Linked DNA regions of Homo sapiens: all the other regions are linked to region 1. The links come from fine-mapping of genetic effects on gene expression. A gene starts in region 1. Each other region holds a variant in brackets. All regions are shown on one strand. Distances are between the middles of the regions.

Evidence for each region. PIP is the estimated chance that this variant, and not a neighbour inherited with it, causes the effect. A credible set is the group of variants that fine-mapping cannot tell apart.
Region 2: its variant is the best candidate, but not a certain one, in a credible set for the expression of B3GLCT in left ventricle (GTEx, PIP 0.89).
Region 3: its variant is the best candidate, but not a certain one, in a credible set for the expression of B3GLCT in pancreatic islets (van de Bunt 2015, PIP 0.77).
Region 4: its variant is the best candidate, but not a certain one, in a credible set for the expression of B3GLCT in rectum (CEDAR, PIP 0.62).

Annotation. Positions count from the first base shown.
Region 1 is chr13:31,196,326-31,202,446 of GRCh38, reverse strand. It overlaps B3GLCT (beta 3-glucosyltransferase), which reads right to left and starts at 2,472. Exons shown (of 15, transcript NM_194318.4): 1 at 2,293-2,472. The coding sequence starts at 2,362. RefSeq lists silencers at 1,512-1,761, 1,822-2,721, 2,772-2,831.
Region 2 is chr13:31,245,634-31,251,754 of GRCh38, reverse strand. B3GLCT (beta 3-glucosyltransferase) reads right to left here. Exons shown (of 15, transcript NM_194318.4): 5 at 4,656-4,732; 6 at 3,789-3,900. Among named protein-coding and RNA genes, the nearest start is that of B3GLCT, 49 kb to the right of the region's middle. The variant T/C (reference allele first, on the strand shown) is at 2,653.
Region 3 is chr13:31,362,031-31,368,151 of GRCh38, reverse strand. No RefSeq gene overlaps it. Among named protein-coding and RNA genes, the nearest start is that of B3GLCT, 170 kb to the right of the region's middle. The variant C/A (reference allele first, on the strand shown) is at 3,558.
Region 4 is chr13:31,234,251-31,240,371 of GRCh38, reverse strand. The region is part of intron 4 of B3GLCT (beta 3-glucosyltransferase); the gene reads right to left. Among named protein-coding and RNA genes, the nearest start is that of B3GLCT, 37 kb to the right of the region's middle. The variant C/AC (reference allele first, on the strand shown) is at 3,019.

The DNA.
Region 1 (6,121 bases):
AAAGTGCTAGTATTCTATCCAGTCCATTCGCCCTGTTCATATGAGAAAACTGAAGCTCAAAGCCACTAAAAGCCACACAGCTAACAAATGGTAACCTGGAGGCCTGACTCAATCTTCTCATTCTGAAACTGGTGCCAGACTTTAGAACCAAAGTTGCAGTGAACCGTGTCTGTATATGCATGTGGGTTTAAAAGAAATTTTCTATATTGACTTTTCTCTAAAAATATAAACAAATATGCTCTAGTTTGTGGGGAAACTAAACTATATAGTCAGGCCAATCTTATATGGGAATATTTAAGGTATTTATAAACTATCAAGATTGTTCACATGTGACAGAACGCCTGTCACATTCTGTTTCAGCAAGATTCCAAGAACATCGTAAGTGGGGACATCTTTATACGTGTCGGTGCCCTTCCCCTAAATCGAAGCAGAGCTCCATAAAAGGTATTCATGATTCACTTCAGACCTCGAAGAATACAGCCTCCCGTCTGTGCCAACCCATGAAAGCCAGTTCCCAAAGGCCAAATGTCTCACAGGGACCTTTTAATGCATTTTATGTCTTATTTATTGTGCTTATCTGACAACTTCACAAGGCTAATAGACATCTCTAAAAATGTGTTGACATCTTAGTGCATTCTGAATGTCCTTCAGTGTATTATCAAATTTGGACAGTGCAAATATTCCCCTGGGGGTAATAAAAAATAGACACAGCAATACAAATGTGCATTTCAGCCCATATGTTGTATATATTATATACAAATATTATACCCCCAGTACAGCATTATAAAGTGCAGTGCTATAAATAGAATACCAATTTCAGCTACCACCCACCCATTTGGTTAGTTGCAAAACATCCAGGCAACAAGCCAACTGATGCAGCCAGGAGTCACCCAGTCGCTTTCCCAAACCTCCAACCTCCCTTTCTCCCAGGGCTGCCACCCAGCAATGCCCTTCTTCCACTGAAGCCGATTCCAGCCAAATTCAGTCGCTCCCCAAGACCAACTACAGCCTTCTCTGCCGGAGGTGCCCTAATATTTTTAATTACACTGCTGCCTAATTAATCATGCATGTAAACAATTACCAACTAATCTTGCTCTTTTCCCACACTTACTGAGCGCCTATAGAAATGCCAGAAGTACACAAATGCAGCAAATTAATCCTTATTCAGAGAGCTTAAATACAAATAAAAACAGGCTGTCAAGGTTCCGGTGGGCTAACAAGAGCAGTGCGCAATAACGCTACGTCTTTTCCTAAACTGCACCATTCTGCCATTACTAAAAAATCTGAAATCATTGCCTTTTCACACCAGCAAGTCTGGGTTAGAGGACAAAAACTCTGTAGCAGTCTGAAAAAAAAATAATTTTTCGCTCAAGCTTTCAAAGTTGAACAAATCTGATCATGAAAGTCAATTACAAGGCTGCTTTTTTTTTTTTTTTAACTTTTATCACATCGTTTTAAGATAAAGGGGGGAAATGCCCTTGCGAGGAGAAAAGAAATAAAAAAGAATGGGCATTACAGCAGCAGGAGACCGGGCAAGCACTGCTCTGCTCGCAGACGTGTCCCCTGATGTCCCCAGCGGAGACCCGAGACAGGAGCAAGCCTCCCCGCCGCGCCAGCTCCCGCGGAGGCCCAGCGGGCGCCCCTGTCCTCCTCCGGGTCGGAATCCGGGAAGGGCTGGCGCCGAGCTGGCCGCTTATCCTCAGGGGCCAGGGCACGTCCCGAAGGCCCTGCGGAGGGGCGCGCGGACACCGGGACCGCAGTCCTCGCCCCCGGGGGTCGAACAGGAGCCGCGGGGCCTCGAGGGCCGCCTCGCCGGCTCCCGTCCAGCCTCCCGCCCGGCGCGGGGCGCGCAGGACGGCGGAGCGCGGGCGGAAGGCAGGGGGGCGGGACCGCCGCCGCCGCCACTCGCGCTGTTGCAAAGTTTCTTCGGTGGCACAGTTCCTGCGCGCTTCCTGTGGGGGCGGCTGCTGCGCCCTCGCCGCCCCGTCGCCCGCCGGTTCGGGGCGGCAGAGGCTGGGAGACGCGAGTCTGGGGCCGGGGCGGCAGCGGGGACCCAAGACCGAAAGGGGCCGAGCGGGCACGCCTCGGGTCCCGGGCCCGGGTCCCACCTGGGCGCCGCGAGAGGGCGCTGCTGACGGCGCGGCGCGGCGGGGACCGGACGGCGGGACGCGCGCGCCGGCGGGGCAGGGCTGGGCCGCCCTGCGCCTCCCTCCCCGCGCCGACCGGGGCACGGGCGACTGTGCCCGCGAACCCCACGCCTCGCCCTTGCGCGCCTGGCCGCCCGCTACTTACCCAGGGAGCAGGTGAGGAGCGCGAGCAGCGCCGGCGGCGCGAGCAGCCACCAGCAGGCGGGCGGCCGCATCCTGGCGGCGGAGGCTGAGCGCCCTACCTGGGCGCGGGGAAGGGAGACGCGCGGGGAGCGGAGCTGCGCCGCTGCCGCCGCCGCCCTGCCGCCGCGGCTGACCCTTCTCTGCCGGCTCCCCTCCTCCCTCCGTCTCCGCCGCGCCATCGCCGGCCGCGCCCTCTGGCGGCCGGGAGCGGGAGCACCCCTGTGCGCGCTTCCAGCGTCTGCCGGGCTGGCGGCTGCGGCTGGTGTCCGGCCCGACGGGCTGCTGCGGTAGAGGTGGCCGCGGCTCTGCCCTCACGGCGCCCTCCTTCGAGGCGTCTGACCTCTGCCCCCTCCAGCCACCAGCCTCCACCCCTCCTCTTCCTTTCTCCTCTGCGTCCCTCCTGACCTAGGCCGCGTCCCCTGCCTTCATGCCCTCCCACCTTACCGCGTCACCCCCATCAGTAGTTCTACCTGTGAAGTGGAAGCGAGCAGTAATCACTTTTCCTCCCTGCTAATGTATTATCTGCTGTGGAAAAAAAAATGTAATCAATAGTTCAACTCTTAATATTGTTGGCACCAATGCTCTACTTTGATGAAGGTGTTTTTAATCAGCTCAACTAATTTACTTAATATCCCCTTTAAATGGAATTTGGCCAATAGCCTAGGTCTGGGATTTGGCTTTTAAACAAGTTTGTGTAAATGTAATTTTCTATAAATGTAATTTTAAGTGTTCACCATAATGGAAGAGAGTGGGTGTAATTTTATTCAAAATATAAAAATTAATTAAACTGGAATACAGAGAAGTGGAGCAATGTGGGAGTGCCTCCTGTTCCCGCAGGACTGCGAAGGGCTTTCCTCCCCAGCCCGGTAGAGTGGTGGCCCTGATAGGGGACTGGTCCTGTTGTGTTGTGTGGTGCACTGAAGGGGAAAGCATTACAAGTAAGAACTAGAGGCTCCCTTCAGTGGTTCTGAACTCCTTCGTGCCTCCCTCAAGCCTTGGCTCACTTCTGTTTCCAAGGAAGTGCACAGGACCAAGTGCTTTTCCCAGCCCTAGTTTAGCCCATGACCTCTTGAAGGCAGTTTCTATGTTTTCCTTCATATTTACTCATTTGTTGGATACCTACTATGTGACTGCAACTCTGCTAAGCACCCTAGGAATGCCAGTATCTTTCACATGGACATACAACATTCACCTACTTGCTAAACATTTAAGGAGGAGGAGGCCCTGGGAGTACAAGTAGGATGGCCCTGGGAATACAAGTAGGATGTCCTGGAGACAGAGAAGCAGGTGCTGAATAAACATTTGTAGGCTTGAGCCCTCTTAACTTGAATGCGTTTAGGGGACTTAGGCTCTAATGCATTAGGACAGTATTGTCTGCAATTGTGCAATACCTGCTGGGATTGTTTTGAAAAGGAGGCCTGGAGACAAAGAATTTTCTCTCTGTGTGGTTTATATTGACTTCTTAAAACTGGGAACTAAATATTTCACGTGTGATCCATTTAGTGTGAGTGCAAATAGTTCCCTTTTGTTCCATTCGCCCAAGGTTTATGGTCTCTTGTCAATACCATTTTGATGGGAGGAAAAAGAAATGTAGGGATCCTTCCATTTCATTTCTTAGTGAAGCATTTCAAATCTATGGTTGACTGAATTCATTGCTTTTATCCTTGGGAAATTCTCAAGCTTACCTGCCTAGTAGTTCTAGATTGTTTCCAATTTCCAAAGCTGTTTTCGCTTTTTTCCAAGAAAATATTCCTTGCATATGTGGGGTAGTAAACATTTAACCAAACTGTTTAATTAGACACAGAAGACTAATAAGCAGGGTCAAATGCCTACTCCACGTGGGTAAGCAACTCCTGGTGCTTAATCAATGTTTTCATGGAAATTCATCATGTTAGAGTATTACTATGTTCCAGAACAAGGTGTGGAAAATTAAGCCCTAAGGACAACAGAGAACACACCGTTTAAGTAATAAACTTGCCCTGGTGTCCTTCCTTTCCACAGTAGACATAGATAAATGGCACATTACAAAGCTCCATAACTCACATTTTAAAAAGAATTGCCTTTCACTTACTCTAGTCATATGATAAATGGACTTGCTGGGAGTTCTCTCTCCCAATCACATGTCAGGAGAGTTTCCTAGAGCAACGTACTGATGAGGATACTAACAGATACATGATAGGCACTGCTTGCCTATAACATTGACTGTAAAGGAACAACTCTAAGTAGAAAAAAAATAAATCCTATAAACTTTAAGATTGTGATATGAAAACAAGCAAGCCATCTTCTTGGGATTTACTCAATCCCAGCTGTCACCTCCATGCTGGCCCCTGAAACTTTCTTTGTTGAGGGACAGGGGAAGAAGCAAGGAGCCATCTTTTGTTGGGGAAGGCACTGTCGCAACCTGGTTAAAACAGACTGGTAATTTTACAGATAATTTTCTAAATACTAAAGGAGAACATAAAGACATACTAAAACCACTGAGAGCCAAATAATCTAATGAACAAGTTCCAAACAGATGGTTTCTGATCTTACAACAGTTATCCTTGAGGCCCAAAAGGCTGAACTCCATTCATTCAAATGATAGGGAGCACCTCTAGCTGATGTGCCCTTTGCTAAGCTCTGGGGCAGATATTAAAGAGCATAAAACATGGTCCTGGGCCCAAGAACTCACGGTCCAGTTTGGGAGACAAAAATGTTCATAACTAACTTTGCTACCTTCTTATAAATGCTATGGCATGCGTAGATCAGCACACTTTGGAACACACAGGGAAAAAAAAATCTCTCAGGGCCTTTGGAATCTGTAAGAAAAGAAGCGACTGTTGCACAGGATCTTAAAGGAGAAATAGCAGGTTCCTGAGCTGAGAAAGGAGGACAGGCGCCCCAGGCTGAGGCACAGCACGAATGTGCAAATCAACAGTAGTGTGGCGGGTGGGGAGAGGGGCTGCAAGGAGGAACAGCTTCTCACTGTGCCCCCTCCAGCCTGCTGCCTCTCTCCTGTGACTTGGAAGGGGCCTCCCAGGCACCCTGTTTCTATACTAGCAAAGCCCAAAGGGCATATTCCAACTCTTCCCACTCTCGGTGCCCTTTCACTCAGTGTCAGGCCTAAAGTGGATTAGCAGTCAACACAATTCAGGAGGACTATTCTCTTCCTGCATAAAACAGCAGGTTTATGAATTATGAGTGGTCTTGAGGATTATTTTCCAAACCTAAAATCAGGTCTTAAGGTTTAATAGTAAAATAGAATGTCTAAAACAGGGTCTCCGGGACTTAAGGTCATTATAATATCAGACCTATGCTACAGTACTTTAATCATCTGCTCACCATCCTCACACCCCACAATCAGTGCACACTAGGGGGTTACAGGAGAAAGACTCATCACTTGTACCTTACGCTTTAGCGTTTTGGGAAGGAAGATAATCTATGATCCCCGTGGAGAAGAGGGAGACAGGAAGAGAAGAGAGGGAGCAAAACTTTCATCACTCAGAGAGGACCCAGAGCCACAGCCCCACTGCATGTACTCAGGAAGAATCCTTTGATGACATACGGTGGTTTCTTTAATGCCCTCAGGGAGCTTGTCTCACATTGCTTCCAAAGCTATTCAAAAATTATAGGCAAGGCCAGGTGCAGTGGCTCACACCTGTAATCCCAGCATTTTGGGAGGCTGAGGCGGGTGGATCATTTGAGGTCAGGCATTCAAGATCAGCCTGGCCAATGTAGTGAAAGCCCATCTGTACTAAAAATATAAAAATTAGCTGGGCATGGTGGCGCACGCCTGTAATCCCAGCTAATCA
Region 2 (6,121 bases), 49 kb before region 1:
TCAGGTACAGCAATCAAATGTAGATTTGGTCTTTTCACACAGTCCCATATTTCTTGGAGGCTTTGTTCATTTCTTTTCACTCTTCTTTCTCTAATCTTGTCTTCTTGCTTTATTTCATTGAGTTGATCTTCAATCTCTGATATCCTTTCTTCCACTTGATCGATTCGGCTATTGGTACTTGGGTATGCTTCACAAAGTGCTTGTGCTGTGTTTTTCAGCTCCATCAGGTCATTTACGTTCTTCTCTAAACTGGTTATTCTAGTTAGCAATTCCTATAACCTTTTTTCAAGGTTCTTAGCTTCCTTGCACTGGGTTAGAACATGCTCCTTTAGCTTGAAGGAGTTTGTTATTACCCACCTTCGGAAGCCTACTTCTGTCAATTCGTCAAACTCATTCTCCATCCAGTTTTGTTCCCTTGCTGGTGAGGAGTTGTGATCCTTTGAAGGAGAAGAGGTGTTCTGGTTTTTGGGATTTTCAGCCGTTTTGTGCTAGTTTCTCCCCAATCTTCATGGATTTATCTACGTTTGGTCTTTGAAGTCGGTGACCTTCGGAGGGGGTCTCTGAGTGGACGTCCTTTTTGTTGATGTTGATACTATTCCTTTCTGTTTATTAGTTTTCCTTCTAACAGTCTGGTCCCCTGCTACAGGTCTGCTGGAGTTTGCTGGAGATCCGTTCCAGATCCTGTTTGCCTGGGTATCCCCGGTGGAGGGTGCAGAACCACAAAGATTGCTGCCTGTTCCTTCCTCTGGAAGCTTCATCCCAGAGGAGCACCTGCCAGATGCCAGTCAGAGCTCTCCTGTATGAGGTGTCTGTCGGCCCCTACTGGGAGGTGTCTCCCAGTCAGGCTACACGGGGGTTCAGGGACCCACTTCAGGAGGGAGGCTGTCCCTTATCAGAGCTCAAACACTGTGCTGAGAGATCCGCTGCTCTCTTCAGAGCTGCCAGGTAGGGACATTTAAGTCTGCTGAAGTGGCGCCCACAACTGCCCCTTCCCCCAGGTTCTCTGTCCCAGGGAGGTGGAGGTTTTATCTATAAGTCTCTGACTGGGGCTGCTGCCTTTTTTCAGAGACGCCCTGCCCAGAGAGGAGGGAATCTAAACAGGCAGTCTGGCGGCAGAGGCCTTGCCTCGCTGTGGTGGGCTCCACCCAGTTTGAACTTCCTGGTGGCTTTGTTTACACTGTGAGGGTAAAATTGCCTACTCAAGCCTCAGCAATGGCGGACGCCCCTCAGAATTACTTTTTGCAAGCACCTGTGTTTTATCTCTATTAAAAATAAATTTAGGCCAGGTGTGGTGGCTCCATGCCTGTAATCCCAGCACTTTGGGAGGCCGAGGCAGGCAGATCACTTGAGACCAGGAGTTGAAGACCAGACTGGCCAACAGGGCAAAATCCCATCTTTACTAAAAATTCAAAAATTACTCAGGTTTGCTGGTGCAAGACTGTAATCCCAGCTACTTGGGAGGCTGAGGCACAAGAATTGATTGAACCTGGGAGGTGGAGGTTGCAGTGAGCCAAGACTGCACCACTGCACTCCGGCCTGGGTGACAGAACGAGACTCTGTCTCAAAAAATAAAATAAAACAAAATAAATTTAAAGTCAACACACCTCATAAAATACACATATATTAAAAGCATACTGTGGTTACAAAGGAAAGACTTCAAACAACATACAAAAATTTATAGAAATCACCGAGGAAGGCAATTTAATAAAGATTAATAAAAGTTAAAAGTTTTACATTTAAAATATTTTGACAGTATACATTTGCATTAGTAAGAATGACTGAAAGATGATGATGGAAATAAATCAGAATCAAACAAAATACCTTATACCCTCACACATTACATAATTATTTTAATGTACTCAAAGTTTATTTGTGTAAATATCAAAGCCAGGTTTGCTTTATACTTTTTTCCCTTCAAATGGTAGAGGACAAAAAAATCACACTGGTTTGAGCTAACTTCAACATCATATAATCTTTATCATTTCTTACTGTTAGTCTCAAAAGAAATAAAGCATCCTGGATGGTTTTTTTTTACACATGGCAGAGTTCTGAAAAGAGGGAGAAAACATCTCCTTTTACCTCTGTTCTGTACTTGCTTTTCATGAACTTGCTTTGAACTTTTAAATTTATCATCCCAATTTTCATTAAAAAGCAAAGTGAGTCACCATCTCCTGTACAGAATTAGAGCTATGGATAATGGAAAAATAACCTCCAGGTGAAATGAACACTAGGAGGAGGTGAAAACTCCTACATCCTAAAAAAGATTTGGGAGTTTTTCCCAAGCCAAAAGGAAACATAAAAGCCTAACAAATGGTTTGCATAAAACATGGCAGAAAGTGCACAGATGCTGGTTAGTGTCATCTGAAAAGACTGGATGAGACAGGTTCATAATTCTTCTCTTTGAAAGAATTATTTTTTTAACCCAATGACCTTCTCATCCAATTATATCTAAAGCTTCCCAGAAATTAAAAGCATGAAGAAAAATCATAGTGGATCTTTCCAGCATTTAAAGATCATCAAAAGCAGTGGTTTCTATTATAGTAACAGGCTTTCCAGGGTTGGAGAAATTAATCTAACGATCACTGTTGCCCAGTGTTTGACATCTACATCAACAAACCGAGCAGAACCCAGAAGCTTGCCTTTTATTCCCCA[T/C]GAGCTCATTACATCTGATTCATCTCAGGAGCGAGCATTCGAAGGTGGGTGGGACAGGTTTCCACTGGGACCAGAAAGGGCCCATCTCTGCTTATCTCAAGTTTAAAGAATTCCAAAAAGTGATCAGGTTGTAACCTGGGCTTCTTTCCTCTGAAAGAGAACTGAATGAGCTCGATTTACTCTTGACACATTTCCAAGGCAGCTCTCTAAACCTAACGAGCCTTTGAACATAGCCCAGCAGCAAAACTGATTATTACAGGGTTATAAAGTCATTCGCAAATATTCACTGACCACCTACTAAGTGTTAAACACTCTGCTAAGGGCTAGGGATTTCAAGGCAAACAAAATCCAGTTGCTCTATCAAATCTGCATGAAATAAAAACAAGATCTGAAAATGTAAAAGCAGTAGTGGACTTCACTGAGTTCCTCTAGTTCAAGATACATCCCTTCCCACCCCCATTCTTTCTCAAATCGTGTTCCCTCTGCCTGGTAGACCCTCTTTCTCTCTTGCTAACTCCTACTCATCCTACAGAACTCAGATTAAATGTCACTTCCTGTCCTGACCCTCCCAGGTTAGATTCCATGCCCCTGTTATATGCTTCTAACAGCACCCTAGTCTTCCTTATTAGAGATGTTTTCCTTCTAACCATAACTGCTTCTCTAATGGTCTGTTCTCCCTGCTATTCTGTGCCACCCACATGTTCAGAATCGCTGTCTGTTTTGTTCTAGCCTCCGCCATCCACAGTGCTCAGTATACAGCTGGCACTCAAAAAAAATTTTCTATCTAAAATAATATATGGTCACTGTCTAATAAGCAGAAATAGCCAACTTAAGTTTATTGCTAAGAAAAGCAGTTTATGAACTTCAAGTTATAGTTTCCAACTCTCTGAAATTGCTAACACATATATTAACAGATTTTTTTCATTTAAAATGGCTCATTATAAGCTCTGTCCCTCTATAAGCTACAAACTTCAAAGAGCATTACTTAACATATCTCAGATATTCAACAATGTTTCATTCTTTTTAATTTTAAACTAAGTGGTTTTTTATTAGATTCAAAAGCTTCTTAATCAAAATTAAATCTCCTTTGAAACACTGTCCCCCAAAATAAGAACTGGTATTGAAGTTATATTCACCTTAGAGGGGTCATATCTTCTGAGGGTTTCCAAGAGTTTTGGAATCTGTATTCTTGTCTCTTCTTCACAGAAGAAAATCCAAGATGAATTTCTGCTATATGTTACAGAAAAACTGACCAAAAGAAACAAGTTTCAGTAATCACTTCTGTAAAATAAGTTAATAATAAGGTTTAAAACTGATCAGTAGGAAGTGAATGAAGGGTACACAGAATGGCATATCTAATTTTTTTCTCTATATTTTTCTTCAGCTTATAGAAAAGCCAGATGCTAATGGTTTAAAAAACAGCTGGAGTTCGTAAAGTTAATTCTCTCCATAACAACACTAGTTCAGGGGATAAATAATTTTCAAATATCAACTTGAAGCATTTTATTCTTTAAGAAAAAGCATATATAGGGCAGGGTGTGGTGGCTCACGCCTGTTATCCCAGCACTTTGGGAGGCCAAGGCAGACGGATCACAAGGTCAACAGATCAAGGCCATCCTGGCCAACATGGTAAAATCTCATCTATACTAAAAATAAAAAAATAACTGGGAGTGGTGGTGCACGCCTGTAGTCACAGCTACTCGGGAGGCTGAGGCAGGGAATTGCTTGAACCCATGAGGCAGAGCTTGCAGGAGCCAAGTCACCACTGCATTCCAGCCTGGCGACAGAGCGAGACTCTGTCTCCAAAAAAAAAGAAAAAGCTATTCATGATTAAGAACCAATCATCAAGAAATTTGGTTAAGGTAGTAATCATAAAAAGTAAAACTCAAATTTACTTCACTTACTGACTGAGGAAAACCACACCCTCTTAATAAAAAGACTAAGGGCGTAAAAGTGTTCAGGTAGGAATGTCAGTAATTCACAGGTGAGTTAAACAAACGTACTGCGGTAACAACGGAAGTATGGTCCATGCACCTTCTTGTTTAGCCAGCTGATGAAGGAGGAGGACACTGGGGAGCTCCTGAGAAAACAATGATCAAAGAAGATAAGTATGAATTGACTACTCCGAAAAAAAGTAAAAAAAAAAAAAAAGAAAAGAAAAGAAAAGAAAAAAGAAAAAAAGAAAAGGCTTGGCTTAAAATGCAGCTGTTTCTAGAGACCTGACATGGTACTCTTCAAACCACTTCTTTTTCCTCATTTTCTCCAGGAGCTACTGGAAATGAAGTATTTTGGCTGAATCCATGCAACCTCTACACTCTGCACCACCCACACACCCAAATAGAGCTCAAGACCTACAAGGAGGGTCTTCCGTGACTCCGAGCCAACCTGAAATCTGTGAAGGTGACTTGAAGGGAAGAGCCTGGGGGAAGTAGTCAGGGATAACTCAGAGGCACAGAAGCAGTTTTTTATTTTATATACAACATATGGAACATGTGAAAATGAAAACCCTTTGGCTAAACTAGAGGATACAATATTTGATCTACCTCATGTGCAAAAATTACTTTACTTTTTAAAGTTCTCTAAACACATTAAAATACCCTGATAACAAAAAGTTTTGGTCGAGAAATGTAATCCTTAATTACTCAGGCAATAACAGGAATAGCATAATAATGGAATTGACAAATTTATAAGCATAGGAGGAACTAAAATTCAGAAATAAGGCACAACTGTGCTTACATAAATTATGTATACATATATAAAGAGAGATTAATATTTTTAAGGCTACGAGTGTTAGCTTTGAAGCAAAACACTATTCCCTATATTTCAAGTTGTTACAAAAGCCAAAAGTCAAAAATTTCATATCTCATATGCTTAAACCTCCTCCCCCAACAAACTTTATTATATCCTGTGTTTTATACTAGCCATAAAACTATATTCCTAGTAACCATTACAGACAAAAGAATTCAAGAACAAGTACCTAAGTATCTGAAACATTACTGCACTGATGTGGATTTCACAGCTGTCTTAAAGTTCATAGATATTTATTATTTAAGAAGAGAATAGTCTTTAATGTAAATCTTTGGAATTAAATTTCAAGTAAATCTCATTTATTTTATATAATATTCATTTCAACTTCCATGTAGAAATATGAAATGCAAAAAACAGTAATCACAGGTTAAATCAGACAAACAATGTGGTATGTTAGAAAGAGCAAACCTTAAGGCTGAATTAGCAGTTACCCAATATAAATAATTCAGGGCCTTCCTACTGTTACTTCTGAATTATGCAGTAATTTTCATTGTCTTTTTAAAATTCCAGCAAATATATATATTCATGAAGGATTACATAAGAGCAGAAAATCATGTGTAAAGAAACTAATGATGTTACTATTTGCATAAAACTTTGGAATAATTATGGGTAAATGCAAATGTGAGCTAGACAAGAAAAGAAATATAGCAAATACTTTTTA
Region 3 (6,121 bases), 170 kb before region 1:
AAGACAAGCTGCCATGCCTCTCTGCAAGCATGCTGCTAGGGGCCAGGGGAAAGACCCTAGAGGTGTTGCGATAAAAAGGTACCTCAGAAGGGTGTATGAACCCTTTAAATTAGTCCTAGATGGCCCTTGCTAAATTGCATCTAGCAACGGGTAGGGGCCACTCTCTGTTGCCTCCCTAACACAAGCAGGTGAAGCTGTGGGACCAGGTCCTCCTCAAACAAGGGAGATAAAGGGAGTCCCAGGAATTGGGGACCCGGCCTAAGAAGGTGACAACTAAGAGGTTGACCTTTTCCTGACCCCCTCACGGTAATGCTAAAAGGAGGGCATAGGTCGGAGAGGAGAATTGGAAGGCCCACTAGAGTCGAAGAGGTCCATCCTCCTCCCCTCAATCCCCAGAATCACCCAGGGCTCCTAAATGGCAATGATGATCTGAATCACCAAAGCCAGGAAAAGGAACCCTGGAACCCATCAGCCCTGCTGCTCCATTTGGGACACTGGCCCTGGACCCAGCAACCCATGTCTTGGGAATAGTCTGCCCTCCAGTGGTTTACATTTGCAGAGGTCAACAGGTGCTTCTTAAGAATTCTGGGGTTTGTGAGCCTGCAATATGGCTATTACAGCCTCTGCCTTTTTCTTGAGTCGCCTTTCCCTCTCTTGGGCCTCCTGATTCCTATTGTACAAGACCAAGGTGGCCACTTTCAGGAGGTACTACCTGATTCTATGGCCTCTTTCTGCAGCTTCCTCCTGATACGAGGGGCTGCCTGATCTAGGACCAGCTGTCCCTCTATTGAATCAGGAGATAGAGGGGTGTGTTTACCAAGACTCCTGTTAGCCTTTCCAGGAAGATACTGGAACTCCCATCCAATCCCTGATCTACCATGGATAGCCCAGTGCAATTGAGAGGCCCAGTCCCAGTCCCTCACAAGCCTTCTAATATACACACCTGAGAGTTTTTCCTTCCATTGTCCCACTTCATCACTGGGGTCCCATTAGGGTCCTCCAATGGTACTGCTATTCTTCCAACTGGATAATGTTCCGCCCCTTCCCTGGCCCTATACAAGATGTAAATAAAACTCATTCCCAACATTCTTTCCCACTTGCTGAGAAGGGCCTACTTTTCAGGGTTTGATTCAAAAAGGAACATGGCCATCCTTCCAGAAGAGTTTAAATACTTGGGTTAAGTTCTAGAAAGCCTCTATATACCTATCAGGGCTGTCTGAAAACCTGCCAAGATCCCCCTTAATTTGCCTTAAGTCCTGAAGAGAAAGGGTGACCTCTGGACCTTAATGGGGCCATATTCACCAGGCCTCTGTTGTAGGGGCAGTTGAGACTGGGACCTGCCTAAAACCAGGATTCCTAGGCTGGGGTAAACTTGAAAGATAACCTGGATAGGGAGGAGCAGAGAAGATTGATTCCCCTGCTGGAGGTAGCTCTGGAGTTTGCTTCCCTACTTCCCTGGGATTGCCCTTGTAACCTCTCCTGAGATGGCCACTAAGAGGGCTGAATCAATCCTACAATGTCAGCAAAGGTCTGGGTTAGGGTTACACTGCAAGGCAAAGAAGGCCTGCACATGGGGGACCTTGGACCATTTGCCCTCGTGTTTACAGAAAAGCTTCCTTCCTGAGGCAATGCTTCTTTTCTGTGCCTCAAGGTGCTTGGCACTAAGTTGGCAACCAAGTAAACTACAAGGACATTTTTACCACGAGTTTACTTACAGACACCAAGGCACACTCCACTTTGTGTTACTCAATCTTCTATTTTATACTTTCAATGACTAAGCTAAATGCTCATTCTAGGCAGTAACATCCCTGGTTTTCAACAAACATCCTTAACATTTAACACTGTATAGAAAAGAGATAGGAACCACAACAGCCACCAAAGAAAGCAAGAAATAAACAACAATAGGAAAGACTGGAGGTCCTAGTGCCGACGGGCAGTTGGGGACTGGAGTTAGTTCAGAGGCCTTTGGATAATACTGAGGTATGGCCTTGGCCAGATACCCTCAGTTGCCCCAGGACCTCCTTCCAGTCCCATGCAATGGGTAGACCTCCAGGAAGGGAAATTGGGTTGGAACAAAGCCAACATTCCCAACACCCAAGGGTGATAGGGGATTGACAACGTCCTCCCCAGCAAGCCTGTCCTCTGTGTCTTAAGTCCTGCAACTGCTCTAGTCACTTTTAACTGGCTGACAGAGGCCCGGTATTTTTCCTTCATTTTGACTATTGTGGAGTTTAGAGACTCCAAAAAACAGGACAGAATCGTTTTTACCCTTCTACAGATCCTGAACAAGCCCCCAAAATGTTCACAGGATCTCTGGGGTGTCAATTTTTCTGGCCGGAAACCTCTGTGGCTGTGGTGTCTTTGCCTGAGTTCTCGTCCTGCTTCCAGGAACACAGACAAGTGAAGGGCAAAGAAGAGGAACTGTTTTACTTAGTGTTAGAACAGCTCAGAGGAGTGGGTAGCTCCTCTCTGTTAGCAGGTTGTCCAGTGTTGGGTTCTCATCAGAGAGGAGGCCCTAGAGAGAATGGCTCATCTCCACAGGCAAGTCATTCAGAGGTCTCTGCAGGTCTCTGAAACTCTAAGCAGACAGAGCAGCTCCCCTCTGCTGGCAAGTCATCTCTGCAGCTGGTGGTCCCATCTCTCTGCCCTCTTCTGCTTCTGGTCATCTTCTGCCCTGCTCTGGCTGAGCTTATGGCTTTTACGGACCTCAGAGGGGAGGAAGTGCATGCCAGTTGATCCATGGGTGGCCATGGAAGAGGCAACATGAGTCCCCGCTCCAGTCAGCAGGACTGGCAGCCAGGCCCCCAACCTTCAGGCTCTCTCTGGCCTGAAGGTGGGGCCTTACTGGGCACCCACCCACTTCTGGCCAGAAATCAATCTGCCTCCTGCTGTCATTCATGGCCCTAGGGCTCTGCCCCAATCACCCTTTCAGATATCTGAGCAGGCGCCCAGAGTAGAGAGGCCAGGCAGTGGGAGCAGACACCCCCGAGCCTGCAGGGATGGTGGGGTTGAGGGGAGTTCCTTCCTGGGGCCCCCGAGGGTGCAGGCTGCAGAGATGCCCAGGTCCTGTGCCTGGGAGGACAGCCACAGCTGCACCCGGGAGCTCCCACCCCGCCAACTTAGAAGAGGCAGGGCTACCACTTGTCCCAGTCTCCTGCCTGCTTCATGGAGTGGGAGGTCCAGGTCTGCATCTGTGGCAGGAAGGCAGATCCCGCCTGTTCCCAAGCTCCCCCAGGAGCACAGGGAGGCACCAATCCACAGCCGCAGTTTGGGCAGCTGTACCTGCTCCGCAGAGCAGGAGGCCTGGGTCTGCACCTGTGGTTTAGGCAGCTGCAGTGGCACAGAGAGCTCCCCTCCAAACTCAGAAGGGGCAGGACCCCCCTACCCCGGCTCTATGGAATATGCAGCTCCAGCTGCACCTCCCTGCTGCAGCCGGAATGATGGTAGCAGTCACTGCCATCAGAGGCATCAGGAGAAAAAGAAGCAACGGAATTTGGTCTCTGAAGGGGTTAGGAAAGACAGATTGTCAGGAAACATAGAAATAAAAAGCGGTTGCA[C/A]CCCGACTCCCCTGGGTGCCTGTTCCTCTCAGCACACACAGCTATCCCTTAGCCCTGGAGGGAGGCCGTGGCCTGTGGGGCACTGATGCACTTCTGTGTGGGAGGTGGAAATGGGAGGGCAGGTAGGCTCGTCTGTTAGCGCCTCTGCCATCCTCCAGTGCTCAGCATCCTGTGCTACAGGGATTGCTGCTCACTGCCAGAGAAGGCTTTTTCCAAAAGCCAAGCCAGCTCTAGTCTATTTGGACGCTGTGTGAGAGGAGGGGGTCAGGGCAGGCAGGGGAGGGGCAGAGAGGGAAGTAAACGGAGGGGTGGGACCTACAAGAGACTCCTTGGATATCAGTAATGTTGTCCTTTCCTTGAAAATTCACACAAGTGCTGTCTTTACAAGTATTTGCTAAACTGCCTAGATTTATGCATTTTTCTGTATATTTTGTTTTACATTAAAAACTGTTCAAATGAAAACAAAGATAGCACAAGAGCATGAGTTAAGCAAGCCCCTCCTGTGCCTCTTAGTAACTGTAGGACTTTATTTTATAAGAATAAAATCTGTTGAATGTTGCCTGTGTCCCTGTACTAAATGTGCACTATCCAACATTCCTGTGAGTTAGACATATAGTGCCCTTTCTACAGAAGACACTGCCTTTAGCAAGGTGAAGAGGTCTGCCCTGTATCACATAGCCCTTGAGAGGCAGAGCCAGGTTTGGACATCAGGTCCTCTTAGGTCTACCCAGAGCCTGCCCTCCTGCAGCAATGTGGAGCATGCCCTCAAAGGCCTGCTTGTGACTGGCAGGGGCACTCACAAATAAAACCACACTGTCAGGCTATCCCTAGAGATGAGTCCAGAGAAAGGTCCCTTCATGAGATTGGAATTAGGAGATTTGGTCTTGACAGAGAACTTGAAAGTCTGCATTGGCAGTGTACTTGAAAATCTGCATAGGCAAGACATGCCTAATTAAATGTGATGGTTTTTTTCTAAGAGTGTACTTTAGGTTGACGTAATGTTTCTGCCAGGTTGTATAAAGGAAAATGCCTGTTAGGTTTGCTGCTTGAAATACATTATACCTGGAAGAGTTTAAAGTGCTTCAAGTGGTTATTTTTGTTAAGGGGTGTATCAAAATATGGATACATAATTGACTCCCTCTGTGGTTCCTGGTGTGGCCTCTGGCTCTGAGACATATCAGCCAATACCCTGAAGTCTGTGTACAATAGTACCTCTGCCCCTAAGGAGCAGTAATGTGTACAGTCCCTGGATCCTGATGACCCTGAAGAGCCTCGGCTGATGGAACTCAGCTTCTCCCAGTCTGGAAAAATGACTCAGCGCATGGAGACTGAAGACCATCTGAAGCATTTCTCCAATTGCTGTCTTCTCCTGCACAAGCAAGGGTTATAAAACCATGCATGGATTGAGGTTCAGGACGTGGGGGCCTTGAGTGACTATAAATGGCTCTATTTATTGAGCCAAGTCCACAGTTTCTGTGGAAATGTATTTCACTGTGACCCACCTGGTTCCTGAAAGTCCCTGTGCTTATAACCCCAGTACTATAATGGCATCCTCATATTTCCCCCAAAAGAGGGGTGCTTAGGCCTGAATATAAGTGGCAGAGGGAGGGTCAAGGAGACATTCGAGCCACTAACATGTAAATTTTCCTAAAGTATTCAGTTAAATATTGTTAAGATTGTGTTGCTGAACACCAGGGGTTCAGCCTAGGCCCAGTGGCTTGTCACAGAGAATGCCAATCACTGAGACGATGAGTACTGCCAGGGAAGGAAGGCTTTATTGCCGGGGATGTCAGCCAGAGAGACAGGAGGCAAGTCTCAAATCCATCTCCCAGCTCAACTAAAGTTGAGCATACTTTTATTAATGGTTTTAGAACAGCATCTTAAGCCACATTGAACTAGGATGATCAATAATATAGATAACCCAAATTTTAAGATAACGGAGAGTATGGAGGGGATCCCCTGTGGGAATCCAAGAGAACAATCTTATGCCTACCCACAAGTCTTCCTGATTCATCACATCCCAATCAAATGGAGTGCTGTTCAGGTCACCATCAAGGGAAAAGAGGCACTTGCCTTCTTCTAGGAAACAGGGGGACTTCGTAGTCCCTAAAAGGTTTTTCATATAAGGCATGCTCAGTACACTGTTCTTTTAGGGGTCTTCAGATGTTCAAATGTGCAGGTAGGGACATGCAAAAAGCTATGAAGTGGTTGGATTAAGGGGTCGCTATGGTCTAGAGCAGATTGGGGGTTTTGGTTTTGTTTTGTTTTGTTTTGTTCGACCCAGAGTTTTATTGTTGCCCAGGCTGGAGTGCAGTGGCACAATCTTGGCTCACTGCAACCTCGCTTCCTGGGTTCAAGTGATTCTCCTGCTGCAGCCTCCCAAGTAGCCGGAATTACAGGTGCATGCCAGCACAGCTGGCTAATTTTTGTATTTTTAGTAGAGACAGGGTTTCACCACATTGACCAGACTGGTCTCGAACTCCTGACCTCAGGTGATCCACCAGCCTTGGCCTCCCAAAATGCTGGGATTACAGGCATGAGCCCACCACACCCAGCCATATTGG
Region 4 (6,121 bases), 38 kb before region 1:
ATGCCAGGTTTTAAATAAAGGGTTTATAGTCTCACCACAAAAGGCTACAAAATTAGAAGTGTCAGTTCTCTTCAAAAGCTACATAGTTCAGGTGGAGAGAGTATAGAGGTCTCTAAGCAGCTAGGTTAGCTCCATTTGGTCTAAAGCAGAAAATGTAATCCAACCTCTGACCCGCCGACCTCTGCCCCCAATAATGAAACCCTTTTAAGCATCCTGACTTCTGATTTTTTTTTAGAGAGGGGGGCAGTATTTGCAGGTTGCCTTGCCTGGAACCATAATGTATCTCTGGTTCTGCCTATTTCTCAGCTCCTGCCTTAATTCTAAACACTGTCCTACCCCTCTCCCCAAATATTCCTTCTACAGTGGCTTACTTCTCTGCTCCCCATCCAAAGTGATTCCCTGGGCAAGCAAGACCCTGGCCTTGTGCTGAGGTTAAAGTTCCTACTTTAGTGTCTTCAAATGGTGCCTGGATTCTTGCTTTACTAGAACCTACTGAAAGCAATGCAATTATGCTTTATCTTCTCTCCTTCATTGTTTCCAATTTAATCTTACGTAAAGTTCCTCTGGAGAACAACAATGGTTTTAGACAGGTGTTAATATGCTTTTGAAACTACAGGAAAGATTGTTTCAGCATGGGATCCGCTTGGTGGCTAGACCCCAGGTTCTAGAAGGAAAAAAAAAAAAAAAGACTCAGGTGACAGCTTTGCCATCACAACATAAATTCAAGATACTTAATAGTATCATCTCTAGAACCTGAGCTGTTTGCTCTTTTGTTTCATGTAACTAACAAAATATTTAATATAAGAATTTTTACACAAATATCCACTCCAGAAGGAATTTTAAGTCAAAAAAACAGATGTCAAATCATAATTGACACAGATGCAGTGCACATAATAGGCATCTGAACAAAATAAACTCAAACAGGTGATTTATTAGATCATTGCACAAACTCTCCTTATGGGTTTCTGTCTGTCTCACCTCCACTTTGCTTTTTGTTTGCATACCTCTTTAAATAGTCAGTCTCGATCACTTCACATTACCCTTCCATCTGTGATACAGGGAGGAAAAAAACAGGGAAAAAAATAGCTCTTCTTCAAACTCTGTATTCCTCTATGTGCAGATCTGCATTTAGGAAGCCGTAGTCATCAGCCACATCCCCACTCTCACCGACCCTCCCTTCCATTCACTGCAATCTACAAAGATCACATTCCACTCCCAACACACACTTTACCCATCCCACAAACTGTTCCCTTACAAATTCCAGTTCCTACTTGGCATCCCAAAAGCAGACCTTCTGGCAATTCATGTCTTCATCTTCCAGAACTATGTTCTAAACCTATGTCCTCCAGCTCATTTTCCCTGTCTTTCCTGAGTGATTTCACAAAAGTCTTCCCGCCTTCTCCTCTCAGGCTTCACATGCACAATTAGCACAGCGTCAACTCAAACTTTTTACATATTGCTACACAGCTTCAAACACGTTATCGTCATTCTCAAGGCCCCCATGTGTTGTCTACAGATGTCTTTTTGCATTCAAAAATGACTAATATAACCATAGATGCTCAATTAATATTTGTTGAGTCAATTTTTTTCTCTTTTGAGATGGGGTCTTGCTATGTTGCCCAAGGTGGTCTCAAACTCTTAGATTCAAGCAATCCTCCTGCCTCAGCCTCCTGAGTAGGTGGGACTACAGGTGCGCCTGGCCTATTGAGTGGATTCTTTAAAACACTGATTCTGTACTTACAATTTCTGCTTAATGATATACTCACTTATATTATGAAATAGTTACCATCTACTTTATAAAAACGAGAATACGCATTCTACTAAATTCCTTTCTAATCCTTTGTGACAGAGCAACTTAGAATGATACTCTGCACATAGAATAGAACCTGATGAAGTCAGCTGAGTTATAGATTGGAAAGAACATAAAATTATCAACCTCAGCACCATTATAACTGCATGATAAGCTTCAAAACTGGAGATGGAAATGACTACTTACAATGACCCTTGTTGCAGAAAACAAGGGAAACAGTTTAACTCTTCTACTAACAACTCTGCACACAGTATTAAATGTCAGATAAAAAGTTAGTTTACGCTCTTTCTTTTTAGATTCATGCTGTAATGATGAAAAATGTTTCCGTTTTTAATAAGGCTGCATTTTAGCACCTTGAGGCAAAACAGGCATAGGTAATGACTTGCCTAAGCAAAGAGAATAGCTGGAAACAGATGCATAATCACAGAAGTCATTAAATTTTTGCACCTTAATTTTTTGGCAGACTTTGTAGTCAAGTGCAACCTGACAGAGTAATGACTAAACAGCAGTTCTAGACATCTGGTATTGTGGGAGGAATATATATTTTGAGCTATCAGATAAATATTCAAATGATAAAACTTACTGCTGACTTCTGCCTCACCAAGCAACTTTTACGAATGTTCATGGTGGGCAAATTGATGAAGAAACCAAAACTGCAACCTTCATGCTTCACAGTTGGGGTCCCAGGTGACATGAGGGTCCCAGACATCCCGTCCCTTACAGGCACGGTGCATACCTGCCACACCAAGCTGCTGAGACACCCCTTTGAGGAGCCAGCCTGCTCCCACCACAGCACTGGGACGCCAACAACTTATGCCTCTTAGTTTTTCCCTTTCTCAGCTCCCACAGCTGACGGAGTCACCAGTTCTTTCTTGAGCATGTCCATTTCTTAAAACAGCCTCCAGTAGACGGGGCATGGTGGCTCACACCTGTAATCCCAGCATTTTGGGAGGCCAAGGCGGGTGGGTCACCTGAGGTCAGGAGTTCGAGAGAAGCCTGGCCAACATGGTGAAACCCTGTCTCAACTAAAAATACAAAAAATCAGCCAGGCGTGGTAGTAGGCACCTGTAACTCCAGCTGCTCTGGAGACTGAGGCAGGAGAATCGCTTGAACCCAGAAGGCAGAGGTTGCAGTGAGCTGAGATCGCACCACTGCACTCCAGCCTAGGAAACAGAAGCAAAACTCCATCTAAAAAAAAAAAAAAAAAA[C/AC]AGCCTCCAGCTAAGTTTTAACTAAGGAGCCCTCCTGCCTCTTTAAAGTGACTTTGCCTCCCTATGCTTTGTGAATTTCAGCATTTAATTCTCAGAAGTTGATCTTATTTCTCTATTTTCATTTAGTTCCAGGTGAAGTTATCTCATCATTGCCCCCTAAGTATTGTCTACAGACCCTACGTTAGCTGTCAGCCATTCTTGTTCTTGGATCTCTCTTTTTTTTTTTTTGAGATGGAGTCTCGCTCTGTTGCCCAGGCCGGAGTGCAGTGGTGCGATCTCGGGTCACTGCGACCTCCGCCTACTAGGTCCAGGCAACTCTCCTGCCTCTGCCTCCAGAGTAGCTGGGATTACAGGAGCTGGCCACCACGACCGGCTAATTTTTGTATTTTTGTATAGACAGGGTTTCACCATGTTGGCCAGGCTGGTCTTGAACTCCAGACCTCAGGTGATCCGCCCACCTTGGCCTCCCAAGGTGCTGGGATTACAGGGGTGAACCACCATACTTGGCCCCATTCATGGATCTCTAAAGTGCTATTCATGGAATAAAGTCAACTTTTAATCATACATGTGGCATAAAAAACTCTGTAAAAGAAAAAATGATCCAGAATCAAGTATAATTGCAAACCCTAAAATCTTTCTGGACAGTTCAACTTCCAAAAGACTTGTTAACCCAAAAATGAAATTACCTAAGCTGTAACAGCTCACTATGGATCTTGTGACCAAATTAAAGTTTGGTCATAACTACTTGGGTGCTCTTAGCTGGCTTCATCCAAGCAAAGAATTTCAGAACAATAACCGACCTTCGTATAATTAAAGGGAAGCTTCCTTATTGCTTTAGTCTAGGCTCTACTTACTATCACAGAAATTAAATGCTGGGGGTGATGGGGGTGCATTGCCTAACAATATTGGTTAATTACATGCCTTTAAATGTAAAACCAATGTTGCCACCTAGTGGCAATCTAAGTCCCCTACTCAACAGGCTGTCTAAACAGAAAACTGCAAATAAAGGACAATAAAAATTAAGTATAAGCGTGATAAAGCTAAATAGATGCATAGAATAAAGCACTAAAAAGTCAAATACTTTAAAGAAATGTAGCTATTTCCTAAGCTTCAAAAGCTAAGGACAATGAATCAATGGAAATACAGGTTCTAATGCTGTGTGTGTTTGGCAATCCACTACGTGCTATGCGGGATGCAAAAAGGAATAGGGAACAGGTCCCACCTCCCTCTGGAGCCTGAAGGCAGAACAGATACACTGAAGGACAAAGTACACCTTGGGGGTGCATACGTGAAATGCCAAATGAGCATCCAAGGAAATAGGTGTCTACAGATGAAAATGTCCATCACAGTGGACTGAGGTTACCTGCAACAACACAGAGTCTGTCATAAATCCTGAAGGCATTAGTAAGTGACAGAAGCCAGTCGCAAAAGGACAAATACCTATGACTCCACTCTTCGAGAAATCCAGAAAAATCAAATTCACAGAAACAGCAAGTAGAATGGTGGTAGCCAGGGGTTGGGGTAGGGAGGAATGGGGAGTTGTTCAATGCATACAGATTTTAGTTTCACAAGATAAAAAAGCTCTGGAGATCTGTTACACAACATGATTCCACTTGACACTGCTGAGTTGTACACTTAAGACGTGCATTTTAGGTGTTTTTTATTACAATTAAAAAATAATAACAGTGGTGGTGCCAGCAACAACGAAGCACACTGAGTGGGATGCATCCTGAGGTCAGTGCGCAGGCCACAGTCCCAATTAGTCAGGCAGTCTGAGACCAGTCTCTCTGAGGCCTCTCCAGAGAATGTCGCATTACTGATGGCAATTTGACGGGCCAGTCCTCAGGTAGCCAGCATCCCACACTGCCCCTCCTCTCTGTATCCCTTCGTATGGCCCTTCAGTCTGCTCCGACTCTGCCCAGCCCCTAGACACTGGTCTTCCCGCAGGGCCCATGGCTTCCCCTGGAAGCAGCACCTTCAAGCTTCTAGCCACTACCTATGTATGCTGCTGACTCTCAAATCTACCATCTTCTGGCCAAATCTTTCTCCTGAGCGTAAAACAAATATCCAGCCTCCAGCTACTCACACCCTCACTTCAGATATGACACCCAAAGTCATCATCACCCTCTAAACCTGAGAACCTGTCCTCAATCTCACTCAGCAGCCCCACCTCATCTGAGTCCCAGCTGGAAGCGTCCCTGCCATTCTCTCCAGCCTGGGTCCATCTCCCACCATTCTGGCCCTGCAGCACCCCTACGCCACCCCCAGCCAGATCCATGGCCCTGTCCCCAGCCCAGGGCTTCTCAAACTGCTGTGGTGGAGGGCACACAGCAGTCTGCAACCCGCCCTGTGCAGCATGGCCCAAGACTAGTCCCACGACCTTAGAATGAGGTTCCTCGCCCAGTCCTGGCTCTCTTAATGCCATTCTCCCTAAGGCCACCAGGGGATGGTTTTAAAACACAAACTCTACCAGGTCTACTCCCTAACGGCACTCCCTGGTAGTAATCCTCAACCAAGGGGCACTTTTAACTGTAATAGAGACCAGGGTCACTGCTACATGTATTGCCAGAGACGAGAGATGCTAAACACCTGTATACCAAAGAGATACACCTCAGAATACCAGGAGGGCCCTCAGAGAAGCCCCCAGAGAAGCCTGGCTCCCCAGAGGACATACAATTCTGCGTGACCATGATCCATCCTGACTTCCCAGGCCTGTGGCCCACACTGCCACCCCCCATCCGCTGGCCCCAGGACAGCATCACAGCCCACACACCTGTGCTTCCACCTCTCACCTGGCCACCTTACCTGCTGTCCTCCTTACCCTGAAAGCCCTCCCCTCCCACCTCAGCCTCAACCTAGCTAGTGCCTAATAGGTAGGCTCAGTTCCAGGCTCAGCACTTTCAGAAATCCCTCCTTGAGCATCACATCCCCTCCTCAGCTCCCCTGCCCCACTTCACCATGGTAGGGGCCCTCCTTTGTGTCCCAAGTACCCTTCTATCACTGCTCTTCCACCTTGCTTGAAAACTGCCTGCTTGGCCAGGCACAGTGGCTCATGCCTGTAATCCCAGCACTTTGGGAGGCCGAGGCAGGAAGATTACGAGGT